Linked DNA regions of Homo sapiens: all the other regions are linked to region 4. Evidence: fine-mapped expression QTL. A gene starts in region 4. Each other region holds a variant in brackets. All regions are shown on one strand. Distances are between the middles of the regions. Region 1 has its middle 11 kb from the start of LEO1. Region 2 overlaps TMOD3 (tropomodulin 3). Region 3 overlaps LOC112268148 (a long non-coding RNA gene). Region 4 holds the start of TMOD3 (tropomodulin 3).

Region 1 (2,687 bases), 150 kb before region 4:
TGGATTTTTTTTTTTTAATGAGACAGTATCTTGCTCTTTCACCCAGACTAGAGTGAAGTGGCATAATCATAGTTCACTGCAGCCTTGAACTTAGACATGGAAATATTTAATCAAAGAGTATAGCCATTTACAGTTTAGATAGATAATACCAAATTGCCCTTTCAAAAGGCTGTCTTATTATTATTTTAGTAATAATTATTATTAAAATCTTGCTCTGTCACCTAGGCTGGAGTGCAGTGGCATGATCATGGCTCACTGCATCCTCAACCTCCCAGGCTCAAGTGATCCTCCCACCTCAACCTCCAAAGTAGCTGGGACTACAGGCATGTGCCATGCCAGCTAATTTTTAAATTTTTTTATAGAGACAGTGTCTTGGTATGTTGCCCAGGCTGGTCTCCAACTGCTGGGCTCAAGCAATCCACCCACCTAGGCCTCCCAAAGTGCTGGGATTCCAAGCAAGAGCCACCACATCAGCCCTGTTGTCCTGTTTTTTTTTGTTGTTGTCGTTTTTTGTTTGCTTGTTTTGAGACGGAGTTTCGCTGTTGTTGCCCAGGCTGGAGTGCAATGGCGTGATCTCTGCTCACTGCATCCTCCGCCTCCTGGGTCCAAGTGATTCTCCTGCCTCAGCCTCTGAGTAGCTGGGATTACAGGCCACCACTTCCAGCTAATTTTGTATTTTTAGTACATACGGGGTTTCTCCATGTTGGTCAGGCTGGTCTCGAACTCCCGACCTCAGGTGATCTGCCCACCTTGGCCTCCCAAAGTGCTGGGATTACAGGCATGAGGCACCACGCCCAACCTAAAAAAAAATTCTAAAGGTTAATATTGTTTTTGCAAATAGAAATTTATGACCCTGGGATATTTTTTGGCTGTTTTCCTATTAGTTACTTCTTTCTGACATTTTAGGCCCAGGATTCTAACCCATTTTCCTACCCAAATTTTGATTTTGTGTTAAGTAGCAGATAAAAAGTGTGTACATGTGTGTTTGCACATCTGAAAGTTAAACTTATCCATACATCACTATGAATCATGATTAACCTAAAATGTCACACCCATTTAAAGAAAGGAATTAATCCTGCCTGTCATTTCCTCATTGAGTAAGGAAATAAACTGCAGTCAAGGAAGTAAAATCTTCACTGGATTCTTTAGGGAAATTTCATCTTATGGAGCCCAAGAAAAAATTTAAAAATTTCCTTAAAAGGTAACAGTTACTTTATATAAATGATTACTTTATCAGCAGATGCATACAAATCAGAGTGCCTATAGTTGAAAAATATTTTCTTAGTGTTTTCTAGTCTGAAAAATAC[C/T]TTTTTTATTTTTTTTTACTTGGGAAAAACACGAAAAAACACTGCCTCATTTTATCATAAGAAGTGTTTTGATTGCTATCTAAAGGCAGTATTCTTCAAGTCTCCTCTTATCTAAGACCTCCTTCACCACCACCAACACAGGACATTTTCTTTCTAAAGAAAAATTAGTAAGTGTATAGTGTATGTGTGAGTGTGTATGTGTGTGTACCTCATTTTACATATGATTGAGATCTCTTTAGGGTATACCATCACCATCTTGTGGCCTTTTGCCATATTACTGTTAAGGATGTTAATACTGCAATGCTTTTTTGCCATTGCAAGCATGAAATTCAGCATTATCTCCTCTTGGTAGTCCTCTGTGGGTGAGATGAAATATACTGAGGGCCAGATGCAGCCTGCGTGCCAGCAGTCCCCACCCGCCGACGAGATAGTATCTCTGCAGTTATGCTGTGTTCTCACACGATTCTAAATCAGCCAGTTGGATAAGGAAATCCAGTGAAAGATCTAATCAGAGCAGTTTTGCTGTAAAGTGAAATTTTCAGTTTTGCTTTGTGTTTGAGCCGGATCTGTTTTAGTGGTTCCTTTCTATTTGTAAAATTTTGGTTGGCAGGGAAGTCTACATTTCCTGATGTTTCTCTCTGTCTCTGTGTTTGTGCTGTTGGGATGTTTTCACATTTTTGTTTCAATATTTCCCCACCTCAGTACTATTTTATTATGTGCCTTAAAAAATTATTTTTCCATCCCCTTCTGTCACTCCTTTCCCTTTGTATTCTTAATCTATTTTTTTCCGTCCTTTCTTTCCTTCCTTATACTTCTCATTTTCAGTTTCTTTGATATCTTTTCTGCATATCGTTTTTCTTATTCAGCTTCCTCCACTAACACCCACAGCACCCTCCGTACCCCATCCTCCTTTCTTTGTTCCTTCTGATTCTTTCCTCCAGTAGTTGTTCCTGCTCTGGTGTTGAGTACGCTGACCTCATCCTGCCTGCTGCAAAGGTCTTTTTAGGACATAGCTCTCTGGTAACCCTCAAGCTTCAGGAAGGAGTCTAAAGTCTATCTATTCCAGGAAGCGGGTTCCTAAACCCAACCCTATATTTAAAAGGTTCCAAAAGGACAAACTTTGCTTCTGTCCTAAGAAATAATTTCTGACTCATTACCTTTATTCTGTTCTTTTTTTCTTCACATAAGTCTGAATTTTCTTTTTTTTCTTTTTCTTTTTTTTTTTTGAGACGGAGTCTCGCTCTGTCACCCAGGCTGGACTGCAGTGGCACGATCTCGGCTCACTGCAAGCTTCGGCCTCCCATTCATGCCATTCTCCTGCCTCAGCCTCCGGAGTAGCTGGGACTACAGGCGCCCGCCACCACACGCGGCTAATTTTTT
Region 2 (2,687 bases), 66 kb before region 4:
GCAACAGGGTCATTGCTCCGGGTGGCTGCAAGACTGAAACATTTCACATGTGTGTTGGTTTCCAAAGCCTTTGCAAAATCTTTTAGGGTTGGAATTGGGATATTCTTGAAAGACAATAACATAAAACATCATTACATTTCAATTTTCATTATATTTAGTTTCCATTAATCAAATATATGGTTTTTTTTGCTTTAAAATGTATTCAGAAATTATACAAACACCTAAGAATTAGTCTACAAATGAATACAAATAATGCAGCTTCCTCCATAATTATCTGACTTATCTACGATGGAGCATTTGCATAAACTACTGACTCAGAGCAGAGCACATATCACCATTTCTCTAGCATTTAGGTTAAAAAAAATTCTCATTATTCTCACCTTTCATTATTCCTTTTATTTATTTATGTATTTTGAGACAGAGTTTTGCTCTTGTTGCCCAGGTTGGAGTGCAACGGCGCAATCTCAGCTCACTGCAACCTCTATCTCCCAGGTTTAAGCAACCCTCCTGCCTCAGCCTCCCAAGTAGCTGAGATTACAGGCATGCACCACCAGGTCCAGCTAATTTTGTATTTTTAGGAGAGATGGGGTTTCATCATGTTGGTCAGGCTGGTCCCGAACTCCTGACCTCAGGTGATCCACCCTCCTCGGCCTCCCAAAGTGCTGGGATTACAGGCATGAGTCACTGCACCCAGCCTTCATTATTCTTTTTATATGAAAATAAAAGTGGATTTACTTTTCTACAAGGAAAGAAATGAAGGAGTCCATCTCTGATGAGTACGATTCCTGAGGCAGACAGACTGTTCTCAGTCACTTAGTTTAAGCTACAAAGCACTAAGAGAGATTAACCCTACACTACTTGAAGGAGAGAAAATACTGAAGATGCTGGTTTCTCTCAGTAGTATCTTGAGACTTCAATTCCCCCTAGCCTGGTTATTTTCAGATGATTACTGTTTATTTAGAGAAAGGGATACACAGGGACCAAATTAAAAAAAATAAAAATAGGCCGGGCGCAGTGGCTCACACCTGTAATCCCAGCAGTTTGGGAGGCCAAGGTGGGCGAATCACTTGAGGTCAGGAGTTCAAAACCAGCCTGGCCAACATGGTGAAACCCCATCTCTACTAAAAATACAAAAATTAGCCAGGTGTGGTGGTGGATGCCTGTAATCCCAGGTATTCAGGAGGCTGAGACACAAGAATTGCTTGAACCTGGGGCAGGGCAGAGGTTGCAGTGAGCCAAGATCGCACCACTGCACTCCAGCCTGGGCAACAGAGCAAGACTCTGTCTCAAAAAAAAAAAAAAAAA[AG/G]TTAGTAATCAACTATGAATATAAGCTTTCTCTGAGGCTTTCCTTCCTCTACTCACAGGAAGGATCACTCCCTAGAGGAGCACAGAAGCTTCCTTCCCTAGGCTCAAGATTTCCAGATGCTCTCCTCCACTTGTCCTCGACTTCAAAAAAATCAAGTTTTAAAATGAGGAATTTATAATGAAGCCATTACACAATGGCTAATATCTAGATAATTTGAGTTTACTTTTTGGTAATTAATTACCCCATGTCCTCCTAATTTCTTCTTTCCTTACTCCAAGGAAGAGTTGCATTGTTTAAAACTCAAAATAAGATCCCAGAAAGCCTATTCCTAGGTGTTTACTCAAGAGAATTTAAAACATGTTCACACAAAAACCTGTGTGTGAAAAGTATATAGTGGCTGTATTAATAAACATCCCAAACTGGAAGGAACCCATATGTCTTCCAACTGATGAACAGATAAACAAACTGCAGCGTATCTGACACACTCACCATGAATCAATCTCAAATGTATTATGCTAAGAAGCCAGACCCAAAAGGCTACATACTATAGGATTCAATTTATATGACATTCTGGAGAAGGCAAAATAATAGGGAAAGAAAATAGGTCAGTGGTTGTCAGGGGCTAGAGCTGGGGGTCAGAGAATGACTACAAAGGGGTATGAGAGAACTTTTGCGGTGACAGATATATTCTATATCTTGAGTGTAATGGTGGTTGTACAAAATTGTATGCACCTGTCAAAATTCATAGAACTGGACACTAAAAGGGAGAATTTTACCATATTTAAATTTTACCTCAAAAAAACAGGTTTTATTTTATTTTTTGAGATGGGACAGTGGCAGGTCTCACTATGTTGCCCAGGCTGGTCTCAAACTTTTGGGCTCAAGCCATCCTCCAGCCTCAGTCTCCCAAGTAGCTGGGATTACAGGCATGCACCACCATACCTGGCTAAGGAACCGAATTTTAAAAAAGCAAGACCCAAGAGGCTAAATGTTCTTAGAAGTGGGCAGTATTTAGAAAACCTGAGATTTATTCTGACAGTTTGTAGGGTTTACATTTTTAGATGATAAATTCTTCAAAAAGCAAGTTAGAAAATACTATACCATAATACTTCAATATCTAAAATATGAAGAAACCTATGTTAGCATACTGGTAAGAGCAAAAACTTTACGTTAAAGTAGAAAGAATTAGACTATTTTATCAACTGCCCAGCTCTCATCCTAGGTTCAACTAACTCAAAGCAATACAAAACCACTCTGATTAGCACACTTACCTTTATATTATTCAAATTAACTTCAACAAGATGAGCATCGTTTTCTTTAGTTCTCTTCAAACTCTCTTCTACATTGGTTGGATTTGGTGGCTCATCAAATACCGGAAGAA
Region 3 (2,687 bases), 100 kb before region 4:
AAATTAGGCTGGGTGTCGTGGCTCACACCTGTAATCCCAGCACTTTGGGAGGCCGAGGAAGGTGGATTACTTGAGGTCAGCAGTTCAGGACCAGCCTGGTCAACATGGTGAAACCCCGTCTCTACTAAAAACACAAAAATTAGCTGTGTGTGGTGGCAGGTGCCTGTAATCCCAGCTGCTACGGAGGCTGAGGCAGGAGAATTGCTTGAACCCAGGAGGTGGAGCTTGCAGTGAGCCAAGATCGTGCCACTGCACTCCAGCCTGGGCGACAGAGTGAGACACCGTCTCAAAAAATAAAATAAAATAAAAAATAAAAAAAGATATGACACAATTGTGGATAAATATGGACAACATAGGCTTCTATGAACATTCTTGCACAGTGCAGATACATTCAGTGTTGGGCTGGTCCTGAGCAGCACTGTTGTGAAATGCTGTTAAGCACTCTTTCTGTTTTGGTTCAGAATTTTGCTCCTTTGTTGCTACATATTTCAGCCGGGAGCCCTGGCAGGTGTTGGTTAACAGATGTCTTTGTTAGACAGCCACAATCACAATCAAAGCTACCATCAAATATACTTTGTGACAGTTTGGGGGATTCAAACAAGGGAAAAGAGTCAGCATAACTCCATTGCAAATGTCTTTTTCTTAAACTTTATAAAATTGTACAAATTATGCATCTAGCTATTCACTAACTTACTGACTTGCAATTTTTTTTTTTTTTTTTTGAGACGGAGTCTCGCTCTGCATCTCGGCTCACTGCAACCTCCACCTCCTGGGTTCAAGCAATTCTCGTGCCTCAGCCTCCTGAGTAGCTGGGATTACAGGCATGTGCCACTACGCCTGCCTAATTTTTGTAAGTTTGGTAAAGATAGGGTTTCGCCATGTTGACCAGCCTGGTCTCAACTCCTGACCTCAGGTGATCCACCCACCTCAGCCTCCCAGAGTGCTGGGATTACAGGCATGAGCCACCACATCTGGCCATGACTCAGACATTGTAACTAGGAAGATAGCCCTAAGCAATGGTGCTTTTCATGTTCTAGTAATGCACACATTTTGGCCCTGGCTCCTGATGCCACAAGTTTGTGTACTTAGGCTCACTTATGGATGCATCACTTTTAAAAGCCAGGAATTTAGGAAAGGTTCGTAACATTTTTATAGAACCTTAAGCTTTTTAAAGGGTAAACACTAGTAAAACTTCTCTAAAGAACTGGTCGGGCACAGTGGCTCAAACCTGTAATCCCAGCACTTTGGGAGGCCATGGCGGGTGGATCACTTGAAGACAGTAGTTTCAGATCAGCCTGACCAACATGGTGAAACCCTGTTTCTACTAAAAATTCAAAAATTAGCCGGGCATGGTGGTGTGTGTCTACAGTCCCAGCTACTTGGGAGGCTGAGGCAGAAGAATTGCTTGAACCTGGGAGGCAGAGGTTGCAGTGAGC[C/T]GAGATCGCACCATTGTACTCTAGCCTGGTTGACGAAGTGAGACCCTGTCTCAAAAAAAAAAAAAAAAAAAAAAGAAAAAAAAAAACATAAAAACAAATCACTCTCAAACTCAGCACTTACAATAAGCATTTACTATTATCATGCTGATTCTGAGGATTAGGAATTCAGGAATGGCTTCGCTGGTTGTTTCTAACTCAGAGTCTCTTGCAGGCTGCTGTCAAGATGTTGGCTGGCACTACATTATCTAAGGGCTTGCCTAGGGCTGAAGGATCTGTTTCCAAGATGGCTCACATGGGTTTTGGCAGGGGCCTTAGTTTTTCACTATGTGGACCTCTCCATAGGCAGTTTGAATGTCCTCACGGCATGGCAGGTGGCTTTCCCCAGAGCAAGTGACCTAAGACAGAAAGAGCAAGACAGAAAAGCCAGTGTCTTTCATAGCCTCATCTCGAATACAGGTTGTATTCTGCTGATCACATAGATCAATCATGACACAGTGTTGGAGGAGACCACACAAGGGCATGGAAACCAGAGGCAGGAATCACTAGGATGGGCAGGAACCTTGAAAGCTGGCTGCCACAGTGATTACCTTTCACCCACCAACTCTGCCTCCTCCTTTCTCCAAAGACACGCTAGTTAGTTAAGCTTCTGAGAACCTGGCTTAGGGAGCCAGTTTGAGGTTGGTTTAGTGGAGATTTGGCTTATGAATCTTTGGACTATGTTGAAGTGGTGGACCAAGAACTAACTGTGTAAAGAACTTTAGTTGGAAAAATTAATACTGTGCATTTCCCCCCAACACCGAAGATCCTAGTGGGACCATGGATCTGTTTGGAGATATAGACGACGTTTCTTCTGAGAGTGATGAGGGCAATCAACCACCTATTCCAGGACAGCTGATTGTAAGTACGATCACCAATATCAACCAATCCCATTATTCAAAGCTAAAAAAGAAAGCTTCAGAGGCTGATGAATCTGTCTTTCTCATGTTGAGAGAGGACGTGGATAGCTGAACATCTGATGAATAGGTGACTTTCTTAGCTATATTGGGAATTTCTGGATATAAGAAGGCACAGAAGGAACTACCCAGAATAAGGGTGATGCCAAACTTTAGGGGCTAGACTAATATAAAATAATATAAAAATATAATTAATATGTAATATAAAAACCTTTGATTTAAAGTTTTTTCTTATTCAAGCCTATGACAAGAAGCATGAGCTATGCTGATATTCTGATTTTAATAGTTGTCTAGTATT
Region 4 (2,687 bases):
TCGTAGGAATGTGTAAGAAAGGGGACTGTAACTATTATGATTGCTGACTCTTAAAGGTGAAAAGGTGCCTAGGAAGAAGAAACTAGCAAGAGTAAATGAGACTTGGCAAAGCTATTTTTCCAAGCCTAATATATTTTTGACGGGCCAATTAATCAATTTAATCTGCCAAAAAAATTAATCTGAAGGTTTCTCAGAAAAGGAGAGGAGACATGAGCTGCATGAAAATGTTACAAACCAAGGGAGGCTGCACATAACTAACTTAAATCTCCACAGGCTTATTTCCTGTTGAAGTATGGCCTCCTGGGGTAAGTTTTACTGCAGTGTTCATTGCCAGATGACTTTTGGTTTTAACAGAGGCCAAGGGCAAGTTGGAAATGCGATTCTTAACTAAACATTAAAAAGAAAAAAAGAAACTGTGGCTGTTTCCCATTTCTGTTTGTAATCAGAATGCAGGCTTGCGGAGGAAACACACCATCCCCCGCAAGCAAAAATATAACGACACAGTCACGTCCTCAAAACAAACTAACACACAAACTTCCCAGCCGGATCCAGCTGTGCTGCCTGGGAGCTAGGAACTTAATTCTAAGAGCAGACAGATCAAACCGGTGAATGCAAGGGCAGCCACATTTCAATCACAAAAAGGGTGTGCCCTAAGTTTTGGCTCCCCCACTCCGCCGCCCCACTTTCAACAAGCCGAAGCCTTTGAAGGAGGCTCGGTGCCATCTCGGTGTGATCGCGTCCCGGCGACGCTGGGTAGGGTGCAGGGAGCCAGCTCGGCCGCGGCTCAGCGGGAGGGGAGGGGGCCGGTCCCGAACCCGGGCGCCCGGGCCGCGGGTGATTCACTGGGAACGCCAGGTTCGCGCGCCTAGACCGGCGGGCGACGCCCAGCGCGCCCCACGTCCCCCGCCCGGGCCGTTCGCGCAGAAGCAGCCCCCGCGCACCCCTGCTCCCCGAGACGGACCCGTCGGGAAGGAGCCTGGAGTCGGGCGGCCGGCGGGCAGCAACCTCTCCCTCCTCAGCCACCATGGCCGGTGCGACTCCCTACCCGCGCCCGCAGACGGACTTCCTGGAAAGCACCGGGCTGGGCTTACCTGACTGGCGCCCGCAGGGGCCGCCGACCTCTTCACAGACCCACGGAAACTGCCGGCCGCAAGCCGAGGCTCGGTTCCCAGCACCCGCCGGTCCGCCCGCGTCGGCCTCCCAAAGAGTTGCCAGACCCACCCGCCAGCAGCTCCCTCACTCGACCGCCCTGTAGGTGCGGTGGGTTCCTCCTTCGCCTCCGACGCGCGTGCGCACTCCCGTGCCGCGGGGCATCCTGGGAGTTGTAGTTCTAGCAAGAAGGGCGAGGCTCAACGCTGACCCTGGTCTTTACAATGGGCAGAACGTAGGAAGGGGACTGCGAATACCAACCCTTATCCCAGTCTAAGATAATGTTCTCTACCCGTGGAAGTACCTACTATGGACTTCCCCGAAGCTGGAAATAGTATCTAGAGGCTCTTTGGTATAGATTTCCTTTTTACTTTGACCTTTTGTAAAGAAGCGCACATGGCAGGGCTTGCATTGTAGCCTTGGTTGTTAATGCGAGGACATGACATTGGGGCCTTTAAACTGGTCATGACAGAGTTATAGAAAAGTAAAGGAATAAAATCTAAAGCCCAAGAGAGGCATAAATCATGCGAATGTCACCTCCAGGGTGTGGTGACCTTAGTGGTTTTCTTAGGTATGCGTTTCGGGGATGATGTAGCTATTGCAGGGCAGTTTCTGCCCATCCTATCTTCCCTTTCCATCTTCAAGCTCTACACCAGGCGGTGGGGCTGGCTGCTGTAGTGGGAGAAAAAACAGAATAGGCTGCTCAAGGGGGGGATTGGGGCAGATGGGTAGTCTAGAGGGAAGAGGAAGAGTGTGGGAATCTCTCAGAGGACTGTTTGACAGTGGCCTATGTAATGGCTACCTTTTGTGCGAGGCTCTGAGGAGAGGGAACTGCGACATTTTTCCATTTATTCATTTAGTCACTTACTGGGAATTTTCCTGGCCTGCTCTTCAGGAGTAGACCATCCCCAGGAATAATGCTAAACTTTGACACACCTTTCAAAAATGCAGCCAAAGAAGTGGACTGACGTGCCTGCTTGAGGTACATTCCAGCTACACCCAGTGTGCGAGCCACTTCATGGTTTAAACCTCTCCTGGCATCTACTTCTTCCCCTCAGAGGAGGGAGGACCCTAGGTTAGATAAACATCCTGGAATTTCATGCAACTGGCACCCACTAATTTCAGCAATGGAGATCACTGATGGTTTAGGTTTTTAAGGGAAAAAAACCCTTCTTTTTTTTTTTCCAAGACAGAGTCTTGTTCTGCCGCCCAGGCTAAAGTGCAGTGGTGTGATCTCGGCTCACTGCAACCTCTGCCTCCCAGGTTTAAGTGATTCTCTTGTCTCAGCCTCCCAAGTAGCTGGGATTACAGGCACGTGCCACCACACCCAGCTAATTTTTGTAGTCCTAGTAGAGATGGGTTTTCACCATGTTGGCCATTCTGGTCTTGAACTCTTGACCTCATGATCTGCCCACCTTGGCCTCCCAAAGTGCTGGGATTACAGGCGTGAGCCACCGTGCTTGGCCAGGAAAAAACCCTTCTCAATTGCAAATACTTAGAGGACAGTCAACACTCAATCTTGTGGCCATTGCATTTTA

The links. PIP is the estimated chance that this variant, and not a neighbour inherited with it, causes the effect.
Region 1: its variant is the best candidate, but not a certain one, in a credible set for the expression of TMOD3 in whole blood (TOPMed, PIP 0.72).
Region 2: its variant is the best candidate, but not a certain one, in a credible set for the expression of TMOD3 in monocytes after Pam3CSK4 (Quach 2016, PIP 0.63).
Region 3: its variant is the best candidate, but not a certain one, in a credible set for the expression of TMOD3 in blood mononuclear cells (TOPMed, PIP 0.86).

What each region holds. Positions count from the first base shown.
Region 1 is chr15:51,981,318-51,984,004 of GRCh38, reverse strand. It overlaps a transcript of MAPK6 not described here. Among named protein-coding and RNA genes, the nearest start is that of LEO1, 11 kb to the right of the region's middle. The variant C/T (reference allele first, on the strand shown) is at 1,308.
Region 2 is chr15:51,893,836-51,896,522 of GRCh38, reverse strand. It overlaps TMOD3 (tropomodulin 3), which reads right to left. Exons shown (of 10, transcript NM_014547.5): 6 at 2,578-2,687; 7 at 1-104. Among named protein-coding and RNA genes, the nearest start is that of TMOD3, 66 kb to the right of the region's middle. The variant AG/G (reference allele first, on the strand shown) is at 1,306.
Region 3 is chr15:51,930,175-51,932,861 of GRCh38, reverse strand. The region is part of intron 1 of LOC112268148 (a long non-coding RNA gene); the gene reads right to left. Among named protein-coding and RNA genes, the nearest start is that of LEO1, 40 kb to the left of the region's middle. The variant C/T (reference allele first, on the strand shown) is at 1,437.
Region 4 is chr15:51,828,241-51,830,927 of GRCh38, reverse strand. It overlaps TMOD3 (tropomodulin 3), which reads right to left and starts at 1,275. Exons shown (of 10, transcript NM_014547.5): 1 at 1,092-1,275. RefSeq lists silencers at 716-995, 1,216-1,370.